4 separate regions of the Homo sapiens genome follow, and all the other regions are linked to region 2. The links come from fine-mapping of genetic effects on gene expression. A gene starts in region 2. Each other region holds a variant in brackets. All regions are shown on one strand. Distances are from middle to middle.

The links. PIP is the estimated chance that this variant, and not a neighbour inherited with it, causes the effect.
Region 1: its variant is the best candidate, but not a certain one, in a credible set for the expression of GHR in anterior cingulate cortex (GTEx, PIP 0.83).
Region 3: its variant is the best candidate, but not a certain one, in a credible set for the expression of GHR in fibroblasts (GTEx, PIP 0.53).
Region 4: its variant is the best candidate, but not a certain one, in a credible set for the expression of GHR in lung (TOPMed, PIP 0.85).

Annotation. Positions count from the first base shown.
Region 1 is chr5:42,711,442-42,715,441 of GRCh38, reverse strand. GHR (growth hormone receptor) reads right to left here. Exons shown (of 10, transcript NM_000163.5): 8 at 1,923-2,013. Among named protein-coding and RNA genes, the nearest start is that of CCDC152, 43 kb to the left of the region's middle. The variant CA/A (reference allele first, on the strand shown) is at 2,071.
Region 2 is chr5:42,419,868-42,425,450 of GRCh38, reverse strand. It overlaps GHR (growth hormone receptor), which reads right to left and starts at 2,012. Exons shown (of 10, transcript NM_000163.5): 1 at 1,496-2,012. RefSeq lists promoters at 390-807, 972-1,319, 972-1,740, 1,938-2,038, 1,648-2,220 and 1 more, cis regulatory regions at 1,843-1,883, 2,221-2,729 and an enhancer at 1,867-2,016.
Region 3 is chr5:42,232,126-42,237,925 of GRCh38, reverse strand. No RefSeq gene overlaps it. Among named protein-coding and RNA genes, the nearest start is that of LINC02996, 60 kb to the right of the region's middle. The variant ACAGT/T (reference allele first, on the strand shown) is at 2,503.
Region 4 is chr5:42,794,291-42,800,090 of GRCh38, reverse strand. CCDC152 (coiled-coil domain containing 152) reads right to left here. Exons shown (of 9, transcript NM_001134848.2): 7 at 3,135-3,262; 8 at 633-716; 9 at 1-432. The coding sequence ends at 310. It overlaps SELENOP (selenoprotein P), which reads left to right. Exons shown (of 5, transcript NM_005410.4): 5 at 1-211. Among named protein-coding and RNA genes, the nearest start is that of SELENOP, 15 kb to the left of the region's middle. The variant AAG/G (reference allele first, on the strand shown) is at 3,317.

The sequences.
Region 1 (4,000 bases), 290 kb before region 2:
GGGTTGGATAATGAATTGTGGACTCAGAAAATTTCAAAGGCATGTAGGACCTGACGCCACTTTACAGCCCTACAGTTCTAGGAAAAATCTCGTTCTTTGCAGTATCAATTTAATTGTTGGAACTACATGTTCTGTCCATACTTGCTGACAAATATTTGCTACTATTTCCCACTTTCAGTAGAACATGCAAATTTAGACAATGATAAGCGTTTTTAATGGGCAAATAAAAAATAAAGTTAATTCTTTCCTACAGAAAATTCAATTTAGTGCAGGAAATTTGGGAGAACAATAAAGATTTCAAATCAATTGTAGAATTTGGTGATTTTGACTAAACATTATAGTTAAGCATTTCATTATTTATAAAAAGCACTGTATTAGAAGTAATATGTTTTCTTGGAAATCCTACTTTTTGAGAGGATAATTTTTTCTTCCTAATATTGTTAACTAATATAACTAAACAACATAACAAATTGACTTGGCCTTCACAATGGCTAGAAATTCACAGCTAATACTAAGAGCTAATTACTTTACATACCTCGTGAGTTTATCTACTGAAGTTATGTATAAATTTTCCCACCAAATATATAGATTAATAAACTGAAATTAATCAACAGAATAATTTGGCTTTTTTGTTGTTGGCATTACTTAAATACACAAATTAAAATTCTAAAAATATATTTATTTATTTTCCTGAAACAATAGAAAATTGTGTTGTGATTTATGATAGCTGCTTTTTTGGAAAACAGGAATGTTGCCAGAAAGTTAGGTGCAAAATGGAATTCAGAATGAATTTTACTTTCCAATTGGTTTATATTATAAAATTGGACATGAAGCTCTACTGAAAATAACCCTTTCTGCATTCAGTTAGACTTTTAGCATGCTTGACACTATAGAAATCTAGCGTCCCAATAATTCTTCTTCCTAACAAAATTCTGTTTTGAAGTTTACAAGTGCTATACTACCTTACAAAACAAAGTAAAATCTTTTAAAATATATTAACATAGATCTCATTTTGATTTATAGATGCCTCTTGGCTTCAGCTGGAGAACGTATTTTCAATTCTAGGTAAGGGGATCAACTGTCTTGGTTACCTGGAACTGAGGGATTTCCTGGCACACCGGACTTGCATTGCTAAAAACCAGGAGAGTTCTAGGCAACCTGGGAGTGTTAGTCACCTTAATTCTAGGAGAAGCAACAAGATTAACCATTGGGACTTTAAAAATACCTTAAATGGGGCCAGGCGCGGTAGCTCACGCCTGTAATCCCAGCGCTTTGGGAGGCTGAGGTGGGCAGATCACCTGAGGTCAGGAGTTCGAGACCAGTCTGACCAACATGGTGAAACTGTATCTAAAAATACAAAATTAGCTGGGCTTGGTGGCGCATGCCTGTAATCCCAGCTACTCTGGAGGCTGAGGCAGGAGAATTGCTTGAACCTGGGGGGCGGCGGTTGCAGTGAGCCAAGATTGCGCCATTGCACTCCAGCCTGGGCAACAGAGTAAGACTCCGTCTCAAGGAAAAAAAAAAATTGTCTGTATATAAGGACTGTATCAGACTCAGCCAAAGGCTCAGTGATACTTTGAAGTCCTGGAATGAATGGGTCAACTTGTTGAGGACTTGAGGGAAAGAGCTAGCTCTTGGATAAAGAGGTACATATCACAAGGTATGCATAGTCACCAGCCTAAGCCTCTTAATGTCCTGTACAAGTCTCCAGATAGAATCTAAACCTCTAAATTGTCTAAGATAAATACAACAAATTGAGTTTTATATGAATGGTAAATATATAACTGGAGATAAAAGTGTACTAGGTTAACTAAAATTTCCACTCATAATTTGACAAAGAAAATATCAAATAACAAATAGAAACACATATGGAAATCTAAACAACTGGTACAAAATACCAAAGAATACTACTCCACACCTACCTTTGCTGTTTAGAAAATAAGAATACAAATAGCATCACTGTTAGCCCAAATATTCCAAAGATAATAATTAAGAGCCATGGAAAGTAGAAATCTGAAACACACAAGAATATTTCGCTTTCAGAATTACGAATAGTTGAAGCACAGTTTA[CA/A]TTTCCCTTTCCCTTTTCACAAAAAATTCATAATTTGTATTCATCTAATAAAGTCAGTGATTTCTCTTGATAACCACTGAAACAGAATGCAACGACTTAGTTTTTTTCTGTTTTATGAACATCTCTGTCCACTTTTCAAATCTCCTCACATTAAAAAAAAACTTCAAAATAAAGAAACAGCATATAGTTCAAAATCAATGTGTGTTTTATGAAAACAAACAATCTGCTTTAAGCATACTATGTGTCCAGGGAGTATCATAAAGGTTTCAGCTTCAGTAAAAAAGTGTTGCTTATTAACACACTACCTAAATAATGCCCACTCGGTTTCTTTTCTATTTTTTTTTAAGTGTGGTGATTTTCTTAGTTTCCAGATTGAAGATTTATCAAAAAGATGAAGGCAGAGTTTTTATTGATAAATCATGACAGAAACTTCTTAGACACAAATAACATATATTTTACAGCTATAAATATACGTATTTATATCAATAAATTAAATTATTAAAATATAATAAATATATCTCATGTATATTATATACATAAAATTGACAGAAAGATCACTACTGAGGCTCCCATCTTCAGGTTTTAGTATACTTTGTATGAGACTTGGGGGAACCTGTTTGTAAAACTTCTATTTCATTCCTTAAGATTGAGTACCTGCCAGCTACTTTGCAGTTGGTACCCAGTATTCTTACCACAGAGGCAGAGGCTAACCACTTTTTTATAAAAATGACAGATGAAATTTACCTTAACATTGCCATTTAAAATGTAGGTCTTTATGCTGAAATAGTCTTTTCTTATTTAAAAAGTTATTAAAATCCCCTAGGGAGATATTATAAGCATTTTAAAGAATTGGTGGGGGAGAAAAAATCATTTTTTGTCTTGTAGTGTCTATAATTTCATATCAATGACATATTCAGGAAAATAACATAAAGTTAGAGCTTCTTTTTTGTTAGTAACAGAAGGAAAAGGCAGTTTAAAAAATATATGTTAAGTGAATTAAATGCCACTACACTAAGCTTAAGGGTGTATAGCTATTGTACTTTTAAGGCCAGAATTGCATAATATCAAATAGTTTGGAAACAAGAATTCAGTTAACTAGAGTATAGAGAAAATGGTGCTATAGAAATTTTCATCCTAATGCTATTTAGTATCATGAGATTCTACCTGTATAGTAAATACAGAAATATAAATTTATTTTCTATGTAGCTTGTGGTTGTTTCATTAACAAACATATAGCCCTGTAAACTTCTGTTTTCAATGAAGATGGAATAGAGCCATTTCCCATTTGAGAATAATAATACTCTATACTTTCTGCTCATCATTAATCAGTTTTCTTTATTTCTGTATCTAAAAGTTTTAATTCTTTTATTCTAAATTCATAGGTCCCATTTTTAAAAACTTTAATCATTGTTGTGATTCTCCTACATAGGGTTTTCAAATGTTCCACGTCTCCTTTAAGTATGACTGCCACACTACTTATTAGGCATTCCTCTAGGTAAAAGCCACACCTCCGCTTTCTAAAACCGTATGCACCTGCTGTTGACTACCTATGCTGACTCAATATTGGGTTTCCTCTTAGATGTCACATATCTATCCATCCATATAGATACATACTTTCTTCCCTAACCATCAGTACAGCTTTTTTTCCTGATTATAAATTCAAAACAAACTTACTATAGAAAATTTCAGAAATATAAAAATATATAAAGAAAAGAATCATCTGAATTCTACCATCCGGAGATTGCCACCAAATTCCTGTCTCTAAACTTCCACCTGCCCCCCGGACTTCTCCTGAATGAAAAATTTGGAAACTAAATCTTCCTTCTGCTTTTGCAATGAACAATATCTGTTACAGATAGTGAGCTCAAGGTCTCTCATCCTGATATCTGATGTTAATATATTTTGATTTGGACAACACACTACCAGTGC
Region 2 (5,583 bases):
GGGTGATTCAGGTGGAAACTAGCCTGGAACACCAGTTGCTCAGGAAACAGAGCCTGACCTGCCACAATATCCCATGTCTGCAAGAAAAGATGAGTGTCTTCCCAGGCACACACACCAGGGAGCCTGAATACCTCTGAAACCAGCCAGTCCCTGGACTGTGGACAGCAGCACCCTGAAAATTTCAAATTCATAGCTCCAACCTGTGTCTGTCTCCGAAGTTCTGTACTCACACATATTACACATCCCTTAGACCTCCCAAACGCCCTCCCATGCAGTTCTCCTGAGAACTCCCCAAAACCTCACTTCCAGTCCTCAGCCACTCAGGGCAATGCGTTTAGTTATTTTAAAGCCCTTAATACTTAATCCTATGCAGAAACTACTCTGACTTCCCAACACTTTGGCCTTCCGTTACCTTTCTCTGTCCCTTCCAAGGTCTCCTGGCGGCACAAACAGACAGGCGGCACCTCTGTGGCCTCTTCCACCCTGCACACCCTACTGGCTCAGGCGCCGACACGCCTCCCCAGGCGCACACTCGCGCGCGCACACACAGCGCACACGTACACTCATTCAGGACACACAGTCCGCGCCAGACCGAGAGCCCCCGCAGCTCGGTCTCAGCAGGCATCCCCTCGGGCTATATATAAAGCACTCGCCCCAAATAGACTTCCCCACGCACTCGCAAGTGCCCTGCCCCGCACCCTCTGCGCCGCCAGCGCCCTCTCCCTAGACACGCGGCCACCCCATTGACCCGCAGCCTCTGGCAGTTCTGTCAAAACTTTAAGCCTGGTTGATTTTACAACCACTAGTGTGTCAAAAGCTGGGGGAGGTCGGCTCGCCACAATTTCCACTTACCCCAGTTCATGCGGACTGGTGGCTGTCACTCTACTGACCCCAGTTCCATCGGTGCCAACGTGCGGCTGCGGCCCGCACAAACGCGCAAAAGACCGCGCGCTCTGCGCGCTGTGTCCACGCGCACAGCTCGACCTCCCCAGTCTCTCCAGTCGCGCTGCCGGGGATTCTTCCCCGCGCAACAGCAGCAGCCTCGGCAGTTCCTGCCGCAGCCAGGCAGATGATGGCAAACAGAAACACACTAGCAAAACTTTTATGACTTTAACAAAACTGTCTCCGGAGTAAACCCCTCCACGTACACTACTCGCGGGCCAGAGCAGACGCCAGAGTGTGATGGTTCGTCTGTCGCCCGCAACTCCCTGCCGCCCTCACCAACTTCCAGACACACACACACACACACACACACACACACACACACACACACACACACTAGATTGGGTTACAACAACCCACCAGCAGAAAACAACTTCTTCGCAAGGAGGAGGGGAGCACAGCCAAGTCATCCGGAATAAAAAATTATCCGTGTAAATATATAAGACAGATCCTCCCGTTTTCATAAACAACTAGAGTCCCAGGGTTCACCCTCAGGCCCCCTGGCACAACAGGAGGAAAATAAAGCCAGACTCCCGGAGCCCCACTCCAGTACCTCCGAGCTTCGCCTCTGATCAGAGAGCGCGGGTTCGCGTCTGCGCTGGGGCCAATGGTGCCGGGGCCTCCGGCCCGCGTGGCCCCAGCCCGGGGTCCCCGCCGCCGCCCGGGCTCAGCAGCAGCCGCCGCCGCCACCGCCACTGTAGCAGCTGCTGCTGCCGCTGCCGCCGCCGCCGCCGCTCCCTAGCCCTCCTCCTCTTCCCATGGCTGCGCCCTGCTTGGCAGCTCGCGGGCTGTCAGGCTTGGGGAGGAGAGAGGGGGCGGGGTGAAACGGGAAGGGAGGATGGGAGGGCAGGGGTGGGAAAAGGCGGCCACCGTTCACCAGGGGTCACGCCGCGCCTGGCCCGCAGTCCCCCAGATCCAGGTTGCAGAAGCGAAGGCGAAGCGGACGTTCAAGGAGGCCAGTTCGAGAACTGCTGCGGAGAGGCCGAGTGCCGCCCGGGCCAAGCATTCCGAGTTGCTGGGATGAAGTCTTCCCGGCGAGGAGCTGGAGTTGGTGCGTGTCACTCTCAACTGAGCTGCGCGGCTCCTCCTAGAGGAAAATATTGGTAGTTGCAATACACTTCCTTCCTCTCCGCCTGCCCGTTCCAAATGAAAGCAGGACCTACAAGAGCGTTAAGTGCAGTCCACAGACTCAAAGAAACACTTACAAAAAGGTTAGCTATCTCCAGGAATGAGAGGAAGATCAGCGAGATACCTTGGAAAGCGTGTTTAGCCATCCAAATATTGCCTTTCCATCAACAATCAAGTTCCAAACTCCTGCTCACTGGGGCACAGTGAAAAGATAGTTAAAACTACGAAGGACTTTATTGTGGAGGTTAGAAGACGGAGACAGAGAGAATGAGTAATTTACCAAGGACACTCAGCATGTTAGCAGAGAGGTATCTGCTAGAGGACAGGGATGCAGGGAGAGCAGACACAGGCCCCAGCCTGAAGTTCCTGAGCCAGGAAAAGGGTTTTAACTCTGCCTCACGCTGGACATAGCTCATCTGTCAAATGCGAGCCCTGCCTACTTCATTCACAAGAAGTTGTAAAAGTGTTGCAGAAAGTTAAAGTTGTGCATAAGCATGTCATTTTTGTACAGCATCAAACCCCAAGTCACTATATGCTTTTCTGAGTAGAGAGTACAAAAATCTAGCTCCAGGTTGTCTCAGATCTGAAGGAGTAGCTAGTCATGCAATCTTTCCACTATTTACTGACGGTCAATTGTAATGTCACTTACTTATAAGCTTCTAACAGCTTTGGCTTACTAAAGACTTTTTTTTTTTAACAGAGCTCCCAGACACAAACCCAAGTTTATACCCAGAAAGAAATGTTTAAACAACTTAAAGGAACCAAGTTTCTTTTCTTTAGAATAAAATATCTATAGGGCTTTGAAGTAGTACACGGGAGCCAAGACTTGAGAAGGAACAGAGGACCAAAGACTCTGGGATAGCAGATATCACATAAGATACCCCTATTTTCAAAGGAATCAGATAAGTGAAAAACTGTTCCTTAGAATGCTTTCAGAAGCTCAGCTGTGGCTCAAATACCCCAGCTGTTCCAGACAGACACCTAGAATGAACGAAAAAGGAAAGATTCTGGAAGGGGCGTGTTTTATCATGGGGTGGGATGGTTATTGATCCTGAACTGCTCTTGTTCTATGGCATCTAAAAATAAGGAGGCATTTAGTTCCCCTAAGACTCTTCCCCAAACCATTGATTTCTGGGGCTTCATACTTTGCTGGAGCAATAGTGGTGCTTGGCTGTGTCTGGAGCTTTTAAAAGGGGAGGTACCCATATAGAGAAACTTGGGAAAGTAAAAGATTAGGGCACAGTCAAGAAAAACTCCTGCTGGGTGGTCCATACCTGCCAAGCTGGCTGACAGGGTAGTCCTGGCAGGAGTAGAGACCAGACAGGCCTCAAATGCTGACTCCACGCCTGTCTGAAATGACCTTCCAAGTTGGACCTTCTTCAGAGCCTGGCACTACCAACCTCTCTGTTTATATCCTCTCTGTGCCTTCTCATCCTTTGCCCTTCTTCCCTGAGCTAGAGAATCTTGATCTAGTTTAGGAGGTGCCAGACGGAGTCATAAAAGATATTCTAAATTCTATTGTTTATGCTCTGAGATGAGCTCAGGGCCATACTTAAAAAAATAAGAATTGACTTCTTTTTTTTTTTAAATCTGGGTTCAGCAATATCCTCCATTCTGTGTGCCATGAAACTAGACTACTCTGGCTGCTGCTCTGTCTTTGATTTTTAAAAAGTCATCATGCACAGAAAACATAGGAAAAGACACCTCAGTTAATACTATAGAACTAGATATAAACCTGCAACTGACATGAAGGGCAGTCTTTATTTTTAAGCCTCGTAAGTAAAGGTCCTTCAATCTCATATATGACCAGGTATTGGTCCATAGTAGTATGTGCCTCTTTATATATTCCAAATTGTGAGGGAAAATGTAGCAGGTATTGAGTTGATTAATTTGTTATAAGTTAAGGCATGCCAGAGCACATTTACCTTCTGAAGAATGAAACTGCATTTGCTCATGGTTTCCACTCTGCTTGGAAGATCCTACTTTGTCCACCCAGAGAAATCCTTCTTAATCTTAAAGTTCCAATCAATTGTTTACTTTCTCTCTGAAGGTCTTCCTGACTATTCCCCAGGGTGGAATTAATTAATTCTCCCTGTATCAGCACCTTTATAGGCCTTTATATCTTCTTTTATTAAATATTGCAGTTTTGTTGACATGTCTGCTTTTCTCATTAATTAAGAGATTTCTGAGGGAGAAACTATATATTCTTAATATCTGTACCTGCAATGTCTAGGTTAGTGCCCAGTATTTACAGAGTTTATAAAGCGTCCAATAAATAATCAAATTGAATGAAAAGTTGTATCTCTTGGATTTATATCTCTAACCCAGATCTCTCCACAGAGCTCCAGGCTAACAACTGGGTATCTCCATTTGGATGTCTAACAGACCTCTGAAACTTGACATGTCCACATCTGAACTCTGGTTCTTTCTCCTTAAACATACTCCAATCACAGTGGGTGACATTTCCATCTCAGTAGATGGCAACTACTTCCTGCCAGTTACCCAGGCCACAAACCTTTGAAATCATCCTTACTTCTTCTCTGCCAATCACATTCCACATTCAAAACTCTGTCTATTTTCTTGGAGAGGTCCAGAGACACCTGGTCTGAACCACCAGAATTTCTCAGATTACTGCAGTAGTCTCTCAACTCAACTGGTCTGCTTGCTTTGACAAACCCCACCCCTAATCCCCAACCAACACCAACAACAACCCAAAGTATAAATTCAGTTGCCATAGTCATTCCTTTTAAAATTAATATCATGTCATTCCTCAGCTCAAAACCCTCCAATGGTTCCCCATTCAAATCAGAATAAAATTCAAAATGGCCCATGAGACCCTACGTGAGCTATGTACCTTTGCCCCACACCTCATCTCCCATGAATTTCCCCATCACTGGGTCATCCATTCTGCTCCCAGCACACCGGCCTCCCTGCTGTTTCTTAAGCAGGCCAGGCAGACTCCTAACTTGAAGGCTTTTTGCTGGCTTTTCTCTCTGATTTAAACACACTTCCACAAATATTCATTTGCTTCCTCCTACAGTTCCTTGAAGTCTTTACTCAGATATTGGCTAACTTATCTTGTCCAACCTATTTTACCTTATTATGGCCTTACCTTATTATGGCCCACCCTTCCCCAGTCTTTTATACATCCCCAGTAGGGCTTAGCAAAAAATATAAACTGCCTTGAAGACAATAGAAACAATTAGAAAATAATTCTGATTATATATATTCAAGTGCAGATATCTAGGTCAGATCGCCATCTCCCCAAACCATAAAACACCACAGTATAAACTTCCTAAATCTACAGTTATCTGAGGTTAGAGCATGGCTTTAGTCACTCTGTTGTACTATAAAATGCCAAAGCTTCTTCTCAAAACAAAACAAAAGAGGCCAAAACACTTAAAGTAGCATTTTATAGCTGTTTTGTTTTATAGCATTTGTAGTTGAAGAACATAGGATTGTTAGTCAGGAGCCTTGGGATCCTGTGTGGGTCCTCTGTGATTTTGGGTAAAT
Region 3 (5,800 bases), 190 kb after region 2:
AACCATTATCTTTGTTAATAAATATTTGTCTAAAAATGTTTATATGTGTGAAAACATTTTATTTGAGACTGGCTTTCTTCAAAAACCAAGTGGCAAGAATGTGGATGAGTAACTAACTGCTACCACCTCGAATGTGGGCGAGTAACTAACTGCTACCACCTCAAATTTTATTGATGAATTTAAAAAAAAAAGAAAAAAGCACTTTTTATACCAAGAAGATATAAGAGAACTGAATGGCCTGGAACACCTTGTAAGAACCCCACAATTCTGTGAATCAGTTTTCCCACACCAATGTGGAGCCATCTTTCCCAAAGCAAATCACCCGGTATAGCTTTCATGGTCACTTCAGCTTCCTTAGTATCTGTGGCCCAGGAATGGACATAGGAAAAAAATTAGAAGCTCTATTATACAATATCATTGTCACTAGTGGTAGCTACAGAATCCCTGCCACCACCACCATAAAGAAAGCCTTTGTTAACCTAAACCACTGAAAGAAACTTTTCTTTACAGTTGTAATCCAGAGGGAATTATAAACTGGGGTTACACAAATAACCATTCCCTTGCTCCCCGACCACTCAATTCAACCCCAGCACACAAGATAAAGATCTTTCCTGGAGCCTTATAATTTCAATACCTAGCTCTACGCAGGGCATCCCAGTGGTAAGCTACTTTTCTCCCCACTTTTCTCCTTTCTTCCTACTCCCTTGCAAAGCAATCCAAATGATATAGGTACTGATCCCTCTACTGGGAAACACAATCCAGACCATTCCCCCAGGCGGATGGATAAAGCTACTAACCATGATATTTATATTCAATACCTCTAGTTTACTCAAGTCCAGTGCTTAAGCAAGAACAACAATCAGATCTGAGAAGCTTTCTGAAAATACAAATTACTTACCTTCCACTATCAGAGATCCAGGTTACTTTTCTAGGTAAGCCCAGGCATGCATATTTGGAAAAAAACATGCTAGCACATATATAACTACATTTCAAAGCCACTGCTTAAGCCTCTAAACCACTTGGGTGAAACCCCAGTGTACTACATGGGTCACTATGCTTGCCTTGATACTCTTTCTCAAAATATTTGGTTTCCTATCCGGGGGACATGCAGCCTTAGATGTTCCCAGGTGTTTCTCTCATGTTCTTGGATGTCATATTCAAATGGTTCTTAAGAATAAGGACTGCCTCTCTGGCCCTCCTCTTTTTTTAGGTAGCCTAGTATAGACCAACCAGGACACTTTTAATCATATTTTTCTAGATCTTGGATTATACTGGTGCTATGGTCTAAGTGTGTCCCCTAAAATTCACATGTTAAAACTTAATCACCAATATGATAGTATTAAAAAGTATAGCCTTTAAAAGCTGATTAAATTAGGAGAGCACAGCCCTCATGAACAGGATGTGATCATAAAAGGACTGGAGGTAACCAGCTAGGCCCTTTTGCCCTTCTATCCCTTCCATCATGTGAAGACACAGCATTCAAGGTGGCATCTTGGAGCCAGATCCCTGGCCCTCACTAGACACCCAACTGCTGGTGCCTTGATCTTGGGCTTCCTAACCTCCAGATCTATATACCTATTGTTTGTAAATTACCCAGTTTCAGGTATTTTGTTATAACAGCATATACAGACTAACCAAGCCTGGGCTGCATGCAGAAGTTCTGCACCTCATCTGGGGAGTCAGAGAGCATATAGCTGAGAGGCAGTGTTACCTAATCTGATGGTGACAGAAAGAGATCAGTGAAAAGCAAGCAGGTCATGAACTAAGGGTTGCTTAGGGGCTCCTGTGGGAGGAAGAAATGGGATGTACTATTTGCGAAAAGCTTCTGGTTCTGCTTGGCACATATTACAGTGTAGTGGCAAACTCCAGAAATATCTTGAGCTGGGGACTCGATGTTCACTATGGCTTGTTATGCAGTCCTGAGACTTCCGGTGTGAGTGTGCTGGGTCAGAAGTCCAGAGACATGATAGAGAGGAAGTGGCTTGGCTGGGCACATACAATGGGTTTTTCTGGTACCATTAATGTCAATAAAGCAGACAAAGCTGCCACAATTTCTGTCCCCTTTAGAAATAATTCCTCTATCACTAGTTGTTCCAGAATCTATGGGAAATTTGATCAAATAAGACTGATTATCGAAACATCAAATATTATTGTGTTCATTTTTCAAATATCATTATTTCTCTACTTGATAGGAAATGAACTAAGCTTTTGGATTATTCATCCTGTCACCACATAAATGATTAATTTACAGAGCACAACAAACGTGATTCTGTGGACAAAGGACCTGGATTTTGATTATATTAGTTTCTATCTGACAAATATTGAACATCCAGGCTATGCCTGCCCTGCACTCTTTGGGGATAGGTGGGAAAGAGTTGACCTGTGTGTTCTCATAAGTCAGGTGATTCTAAAGTTGCCTCAAAATAAGTGAAACTTTAAATTTATGCCACAGGGTTTTATTTCCCAATAGTACCCATTAATTATCTGACTCAAACTCCTTAG[ACAGT/T]AGCAATAATTTAAAATTGCAAAATGTGAATTCTTCAAGGGAACACTGGAAAACAGATATAAGCCCTTGAAAAATACTTAGCTGGATTCACAACTCCAGAACAATATTTTGTTGTTCTTATTCATATCATTTTGGTAGGAGTGGGCAAACTGTCACCTTGGCCCCTTTTCTTCTTTTTGTACAGCATTAATTCATTTCCACATTTTGTTTATTCAACACATATTCATTGTGTTTTGCAATGTGCCAGGTACTGTGTAATTGAAGTGCTCATTTCCAGAGCACTCACAATGCTTTTCCTATGTCCACTAATTTTCACCTACACTTTCTTCTCTATCACAATCACCCGATTTTATTCTGTTTTCAATGTCCTGCTCAAATTCCATTTCTCTATGAAATGTTCAATGATGCCCCAAACAGAATAAATCTTACTCTATATCCATGAACTGTGCATTTTTATTTGAGTTTATCATATTCCAGATTTTCTCACTTTTTAACATATATTTTTCTGCTTGCAAATCTTGTGTACCTAAATGACAGGGATCCTATCTTGTTCTTTTCCTGTGTGACCTAGCAAAATATCTCGTGTCTAGTAGGTGTCTAGTAAATTCTTATTGAATTGTGTTAACATGGTGCCTCTGTAGAAAATGAAAAGGCAAATATATTTCTTTGTTTTCTTTCTAAGATCTTCTTCTACTCCTGTGCCTCCTTCTTCTGCTTCTTCTAAAAGGCAGTTGAGAACAGCAAAAGGTATTATGCAGCATTTAAAGATGCATAAAGATTGAGTTATAATGTCCACATTTTTTTATACTTGGCTTTGTTGCTTCATAATTTAGAGATCTTTCCATATCAGCACACACAGATATACCTCATTCTTTTGAAAAGGTACATAGTATTCCCTTAAAAGGGAGACTAAAATTTATTTTCAGTACCCAAAGGATGGACCTTTAGTTTGCTTTACAGTATTTTGTTATTTAAACATTGCCACAGTGAACATTATTGTATTTTATGTACTTTTGATGTTTTGTTTGTCAGTTACCTCCAGCTAAAGACCACCATGAACACAGATGCCATTGAAATAAATTTGGTTTAATTACTCACTGCAGTAATGGAGAAAGCACACCATAGGTAATTTTAGAGTGGGTTCAAGAAAGTGGGGATTAGCTTTAGATTGTGTGTGGTCAGCCAACAAGAGCACTTCTATCATTGGCTCTAAACTGAAAAAATAGAAAAAAAAAACAAACAACTCAAGAACCATGAGACACCTACAAAAGGTGCAGCTTACATGTAATGGTATACTTATATCAAAACACCAATATTGTATATCATAAATATATGCAATAAAATATTAAAACAAAAAAGAAAAAATATATTTCTTGTGGATACATTTGATTTCATAGTATTCTCTGCCAACAACAACAACAAAACTACATCTAGGCATATCATTTTCAAACTACAGGAAATCAAAAATAAAGGAAAACACTGAAGGAAGTCAGAGGGAGAAAACCCTTTTACCTACAGAAGAATAAAGATAAGAATGACATTTGACTTCTCTTCAGAAATTTCAAGCAACAGAAGAATGGAATAAAATATTGAAAGTGTTGGGAGAAAAAGAACACCAACCCTAGAACTCTGTATTTTGCAAAATTATCCTTCAAAAGTGAAGGAGAAATAAAGACTTTCTCAGACAAACAAAAGTTAAGGAAATTTGTTGCCAGTAGGCCTCCCTTGCAATAAAATTTTATAAAGTTCCATGGAGAGAATGAAAAGAAACTCAGATCTATATAAATAAAGAGCATAAGAGAAGGAATAAGTAAAGGTAAAATTAAAATTTTTATTTTCCTTAATCTAAGAGCTTATTCAAAATAATGATAGCAGCAATCTATTCAATTACATATATGCACAATCCATGAAAGAATTGGTAAGCTGAATTTTATTCAAATCAAAATGTTCTACTCTGCAAAAGATGCAGTCAAGAGAATAAAAGAGAAGTCGTAGACTGGGAGAAAATGTTGGCAAAGACATATCTGATAAAGGACTGTTATCCAAAATATGCAAGCAACTCTTAAAACTCAACAAAAAGAAAACAAACCACTGATTAAAAAATGGGCCCAAAATCTTATATTAAGCTGTTCTTGCATTACTATAAAGAAATACCTGAGACTGGGTAATCTATAAAGAAAAGAAGTTTAATTGGCTTATGTTTCTGCAGGCTGTTCAAACATGGTACCAACATTACTTGGCTTTTGGGAAGGCCTCAGGAAGGTTTTATTCACGGTTGAAGGTGAAGCTGGAGCAGGCACATTACATGGCAAAAGCAGGAGCAAGAGAGAGAAAGTTGGTGGGGGAGGTGACACCAACTTTTAAATGATCAGATTTTATGTGAACTTAGAGCAAGAGATATTAAGCATCACTAAGAAGATGGCACAAATCATTCATGAAGAATCTGCCCCCATGATCCCAACACCTCCCACTAGGTCCCACCTCCAACACTGGAGATTACATTTCAACATGAGATTTGCATGGGGACAAATATCCAAACTATATCAGTCTTCAACAAACACCTCACCAAAGAAGATATGCAGATGGCAGATCCAGGTGGCTTCATATAATATTCCATCAGGGAAATGCAAATTCCAATAGCAATGAGATATCACAACACACCTATTAGAATGGCCAAAATCCTGAATAATGGCCACAGCAAATGCTGCTCACGACATGGAGCAACAGGAACTCTTTCATTGCTGGTGAGAATGCTAAGTGATAAAATAATTTTGGAGGACAGTTTCGCATTTTCTTATAAAATTGAACCTGTTCATACTCTATGATCCAGTAATTACAGTCTTTGGTGTTTACAAAAAGAGTTAAAAATGTATGTCCACACAAAAACCTGCACACAAATGTTTATAGCAGTTTTATTGATAATTGCCAAAACTTGGGAGCAACCAAGACGGCCTTCAGTGGGTGAATGGAGGAATAAACTATGGAATATACAGAAAATGGAATAGTATTCAGAGGTAAGAAGAAATGAGCTATTAAGTCATAACAAGACATGGAGGAAGCTTAAATACATATTACTCTGTCAAAGAAGGCAATATGAATAGGCTGTATATTGTTTGATTCTAACTATATGATATTCTAGAAAATAAAAAACTGTGGAGATAGCGAAAAGATCAGTGATTGCCAGGAGTTTTGGGGAGAGATAAGTAGGCATAGAGCATAGAGAATTTTTAGAGCCATGAAACTGCTCTATATGATGCTACAATTGATATATGTCATAAATTTTTTCAAACTCAT
Region 4 (5,800 bases), 370 kb before region 2:
GGCTGTCTTAAAAGATATAAGGGGAAAGATAATATTGTCTGTCTCTATATTGCTTAGTAAGTATTTCCATAGTCAATGATGGTTTAATAGGTAAACCAAACCCTATAAACCTGACCTCCTTTATGGTTAATACTATTAAGCAAGAATGCAGTACAGAATTGGATACAGTACGGATTTGTCCAAATAAATTCAATAAAAACCTTAAAGCTGACTTCGTTTGTTATGTAGGCTGTATGCATATATTGAAAACAGAAGTGAAACTTTCGATTGCTTTTAAATAAATACCAACTAATGAATTTACTGCTAAGCTCAAAACCGTCTACGCTTAAGGTGAGAATCTTTGCCAACAGAAAGGCGTTGCTCTAAATCGCGAATGGTATTACGAAGAATTGCAATCTCCTTGTTTTTTTCTTCTTGAAAATGCTGAAGTTTCTAAACGAAACAAAAAATTTGTTATTAGAATTCAGAAATAAAATTTAGTACAAGGAACAACAAAATAACAAAGAAATGCACTTCTGCTATTGGTATTTTAAAAAATACCTTATATTGTTAATAAGAATTAGATGATTTTTATAGAAACATGCTTAGAAAGTTTTCTTAAGCAACAAATACTGAGAGGAAAACTCACATACCCTTCTGTAGATACTTTGTGGCAAAACAGTAGAATCCTGATATGATTTTGATTTAGTCTGAACTCTTGCTAGTTTGGCATCAAACTGAATCAAATTGAAAAGAAAGTTATTGAAACTCTAGACAATTAGAAACAATTGTTTCTATAATTATAATCCATGTTATCCTTTGACATGTAATCTGTAATTCAGGTGTAAATTACAGTATAGACAATAGAAAAATCTTTCTTTAAGAAATAATTTTTCAGAAAGAGCAAAGAACAGAAAAACAAGATTAACCCTGATTGCACGGCAAAATTACCTGGAGAGGTTTTTTTTTTCTTTGTTTCTAAAGTACCAAATGCCTGGGCACTACTTTAGAGATTCTGGTGTGCAGCTAGCGTCATCTTTTTCTCAAAACATCACGTGATTCTATAGTGCAGACAGGGTTTAGAATCTAGTTTAACTTAAATATAGGTAAAAATATTTTTACGTTAAAATGAGTGTATTATAAAGAAAATGTAATAAACAGTCAAGGAAGAAAACCTCACCTAGCTTTCTGCAGGAACTTTGAGGCTGAACAGTAGAATTTGAATACGATCTTGTCGATATAGTTTGAACCCTTGCTGGTTTCAATTAAACTGAATCAGGTTAAAAAAGTTCTCATAGGCCATTCTTAACAGGCCAATTTTTTTTTGTTTTTGCACAATATTCCATTATATAACTCTTCTCTTCAGATTTAGTTAACATAGCCTCTCTGAGGACTAAGAATAAACTCTGAGATTATGCTCTGGTTTGAGGAGAGAAATGGTTAGGTACAATGAAAACAAATAAGGAGCTGTGTATACCAGTCAAATAATAGACCAGTGATAAGGCCCAAATGGCAAACAAAATGCAAATTTCCAAACAGAGGAGGATTAGAAGTTGGTAGTAGATCTTGAAACATGGCCTATTAATTTCAGTTGGCCATTCAGCCTTTCCTGTGGTTTGTGGTACACTTGGTCAGATGGCAGCAGCAGCAGCAGCACCAGCAGCAAAGGGTATCTAAAGTCAACATCAGTCCTCTTTCTGCCCAGTGATTACTCAAGGTAACTCACCAAGTACCCTGGGGATTCCAAAGTTTCAGGAATATGAGTAGTATGTGATTTTAATTAAGACTTGTGAATTCTTACAAGGTAAAATGAAAGTTGGGGTGGGGGGAAGCAACGGAAGAATGATGGAAGGGTAGATTGATAGAGTCTAGAAAACATTTAAAGGACAAATATTTTGTCAAAGTACATTTGAGATTGTGATATCCGGTTAAATGAACTACTCAAGACTGTTTGTTTATTTATTTATTTTTTTCGTTCTGTTGCCCAGGCTGGAGTGCAGTGGCACAATCTCGGCTCACTGCTAAGTCTGCCTCCCGGGTTCAAGTGATTCTCCTGCCTCAGCCTCCTGAGTAGCTGGATAACAGGCATCTGCCATCACGCCCAGTTAATTTTTGTAATTTTTTTTTAGTACAGGCGGGTTTCACCACGTTGGCCTGGTTGGTCTCGAACTCCTGACCTTAGGTGATCCGCTCGCCTCGGCCTGCCAAAGTGCTGGGATTATAGGTGTGAGCCACCACACCCGGCCTACTCAAGACTTTTGAGCAAAGAGTTAGAGCCTCAGCCTTTGAGATGCCCTATTAGAAGTCCCTTAAAAAAAAAATTGTAGGAATTTGGTTTGTTTGCCCCCAGGATATATATTCTTCCAGAAAGTTATTAGGAAGAAATTTGTTTTTTTAATGAGAAATAAAGCAAAATAAATTTCTAGTTGGTTACTGGGTTTTGACAAATTTCGGCTGGGATGAGAATAAATGTGAAGCGTTAGAAACATTCTTCCCATGCTGGAATGGTAGAAATTATGAAACCTACATAGAATTTACCATAAAATGCAGATAATCCTTGAGTTTTCTGTCAGGGAAATGTGAGTGCTAAAAATACAATAGCTAAAATAAAGTTTCACTGTATTGGTTTAATAGCCAATTAGATACACTAAAGATAGAATTAGTAAGTTGGAGAATAGGTTAGAAGAAAATATCTACCCTGAGACAGGGAAAAACAAGAAAATGACATATACAGAAAAGAGCATATGAGACACAGGAACTGGTAGTAAAGTCTATGAAAGGCTGTTGTCTCTCACCTAGTGTTGGGCCTAAAGTTGCTGCAGTCAGAAAGGCCTGCAGTTAAAAGGAAAAGTTGGATGTCAAGTGGGAAATACTGAGAAGAAAAGTTCTCAGAGGAAGCAATATCCTCCCTAAAAACCAGGAACTTTCGAACAACTCAAGGGTCCACTTTCAGGTCAAGTGCTGAAAGGCAATGCAGATGACAGTTGTATGGTATGTGATTACTGCAATCATTTGGTGGAGAATGAGCATGTGTGAAGCCCTCTCACAGAATTGCTTCTAATCCTAAAATGTATCTCACTGTGATGAAAAACAATCAAAGTACAGTTTAGACTAAGGGATGTGTCCTCAAGTTTAGCAGACTCTTAAACACTTACTTCTAGTTGTAGCTTGATTATTTCATTTTGTTTTTCTTTTTCTTGACTTCTTAGCTTTGCATTTAACTCTGAAATTTCCATCTCCTTTTTCTCTATTAGTTCTTTGTGCTTTTCTTCATTTAATTCAACTGAATAAAATGAAATAAATAAAATTCATTTGTTAAAAATTTCAAAATTATTAT[AAG/G]TTTGTATTTCTTTAGTGTTTTAAATCATTCCTAAAAAAGTAAATTTTATTAATGAAACATATTTTAGAAATGGTGTAGGTATAGAATAGCTTTTCTATGTTTTTTACAAGACCCTGAATAATGTTTGAGACACAGAAGTCACTTGCCAAATATTTTTGAATGAATAAGGTAATTTAAACTATTAAACATCAAAGGCCTGGAAAATAAATGGGAGATACAGTGGTTGAAGAGGGACACAAAGCCTGAGTTTCTAGGTATGAAGGGCTCAAACTACTGGATGACTCTAGAGCTACATGAAGCCCCTGCTATACTATTCCATATGATCAGGCCATTCTCATGTTCACATCATATCTTTATGCTTTATCAAATTTCTTCTTCTCCCAACTTTCTTATTCCTGTTAATGACACCATGACATCTAGGATGAGAGGCTCAAGAAAATCTTTTATTTTTAACGAGAAAGGAGACAATCTACAAGCCCCACAATGAAGGGCTTCCTAGCTTTCTTTTTTTTTTTTTTAATTTTATTATTATTATACTTTAAGTTTTAGGGTACATGTGCACCATGTGCAGGTTAGTTACATATGTATACATGTGCCATGCTGGTGTGCTGCACCCATTAACTCGTCATTTAGCATTAGGTATATCTGCTAATGCTATCCCTCCCCCATCTCCCCCACCCCACAACAGTCCCCAGAGTGTGATGTTCCCCTTCCTGTGTCCATGTGTTCTCATTGTTCAATTCCCACCTATGAGTGAGAACATGTGGTGTTTGGTTTTTTGTCCTTGCGATAGTTTACTGAGAATGATGATTTCCAATTTCATCCATGTCCCTACAAAGGACATGAACTCATCATTTTTTATGGCTGCATAGTATTCCATGGTGTATATGTGCCACATTTTCTTAATCCAGTCTATCATTGTTGGACATTTGGGTTGGTTCCAAGTCTTTGCTATTGTGAATAGTGCCGCAATAAACATACGCGTGCATGTGTCTTTATAGCAGCATGATTTATAGTCCTTTGGGTATATACCCAGTAATGGGATGGCTGGGTCAAATGGTATTCTGATATAGATATTTAGATAATAAATTTGTAGATCCTACTCTGTATGATTTAAACCTTTGAAATAGGTTGAAATTTACTTTTTCATTTATGATATGGTCAACTTTCTTAAATGTTCCATGCATACTTGAAAATAATACGTATTCCGCATTTATTGGGTATATCATTTATGTCAATTAGTATCAGTTGTTTATTTTGTTGCTTAAATTTTCTATATCATTACTAATTTTGCATATTTGTATGTACTTTTCTACCACTAAAAGGTGAATTAAAGTCTCTCATTATGATTGTGGATTTGTCTGTCACCTACTAGTTCTGCGAATTTTACTTGGTACATATACATTTAGAATTGTTGTTTTATTTCCCTGGTAAATCAAACACTTTACATCACAAAATATCCATCTTTTGCTCTAGAACTGCTTCTTGCTTTAAAGTATACTTTGTCCAATATTAGTATAGCTATGCCAGCTTCATGTTGGCTACTATTTGCATGTTATATTCTTTTCCATCTTTTATTTTAAATCTTTCTATAGTTTTGTATTTTAGGTATATTGAAAGCAGGATAGTAGCAGATTTTAATACTTATTCAATCTGGCAATCTTTTTTAATTGGAAATTCATTCAAGTTTAACTTAATGCATTTAGTAATATATTTGGGTTTAAATCAACTAGCTTATTATTTGTTGGCTTTTACATTTTATGTTCATTTCTCTCTTTTTTCTCATCTTCATTTAGACAGAATAACTATTTTTACTTCCCTTTTTTCCTCCTCTATTAGATTGATAATCATTAGCTTGATAAATATTCTTTTATTCTTCCTTTAGTGGTTATCTTAGAGTTTATGGCATGCCTACTTGACTTATTAGAATTTAATAAAATTAGTACTTTTATCACTTTATGGACATGATACAAACCTTAAAAACATTTTAACTCCATTTATTCCCCCTTTTGTCTTTGGTGTTTTTGTACTATGTTAACTTAGCTAAATTAGAACTATGTTTTCCAGAATTCCCTTGTCTATATGTTCTAAGGTAGAGTTAGCCGTAAGAGAAATCTCCACAAGGTTTGGAAGATGGAAGTATAGCAAGAACTAATTTTCTCTGATGTTTAGTATAGGATGCTGGGCAGTGTTTCAGTTCACACATGGTGTTGCTGGCCTTCTGGCTCACCAAATCAGCAGCTATTATTTTTTGAAGGTCAATGTAGAGCCCCAGGGAACAGTGCAATTTATACAAGTTGTCACTTATCAAAGGATCATCTCAGTAATAAGGAAAAACGTTTGGTTCCACAGCTTCTTAAGCTCCCAACAGATTTCTTTTTTTAGCTGCTAGAAGTCTCAGGCCAGGTGTCCTTGAAGCTCAATGGCGTAGGGCACCATCTTTTCCTGCAGGTCGTCATGTCATTAAGGTCGAAGGAGGTA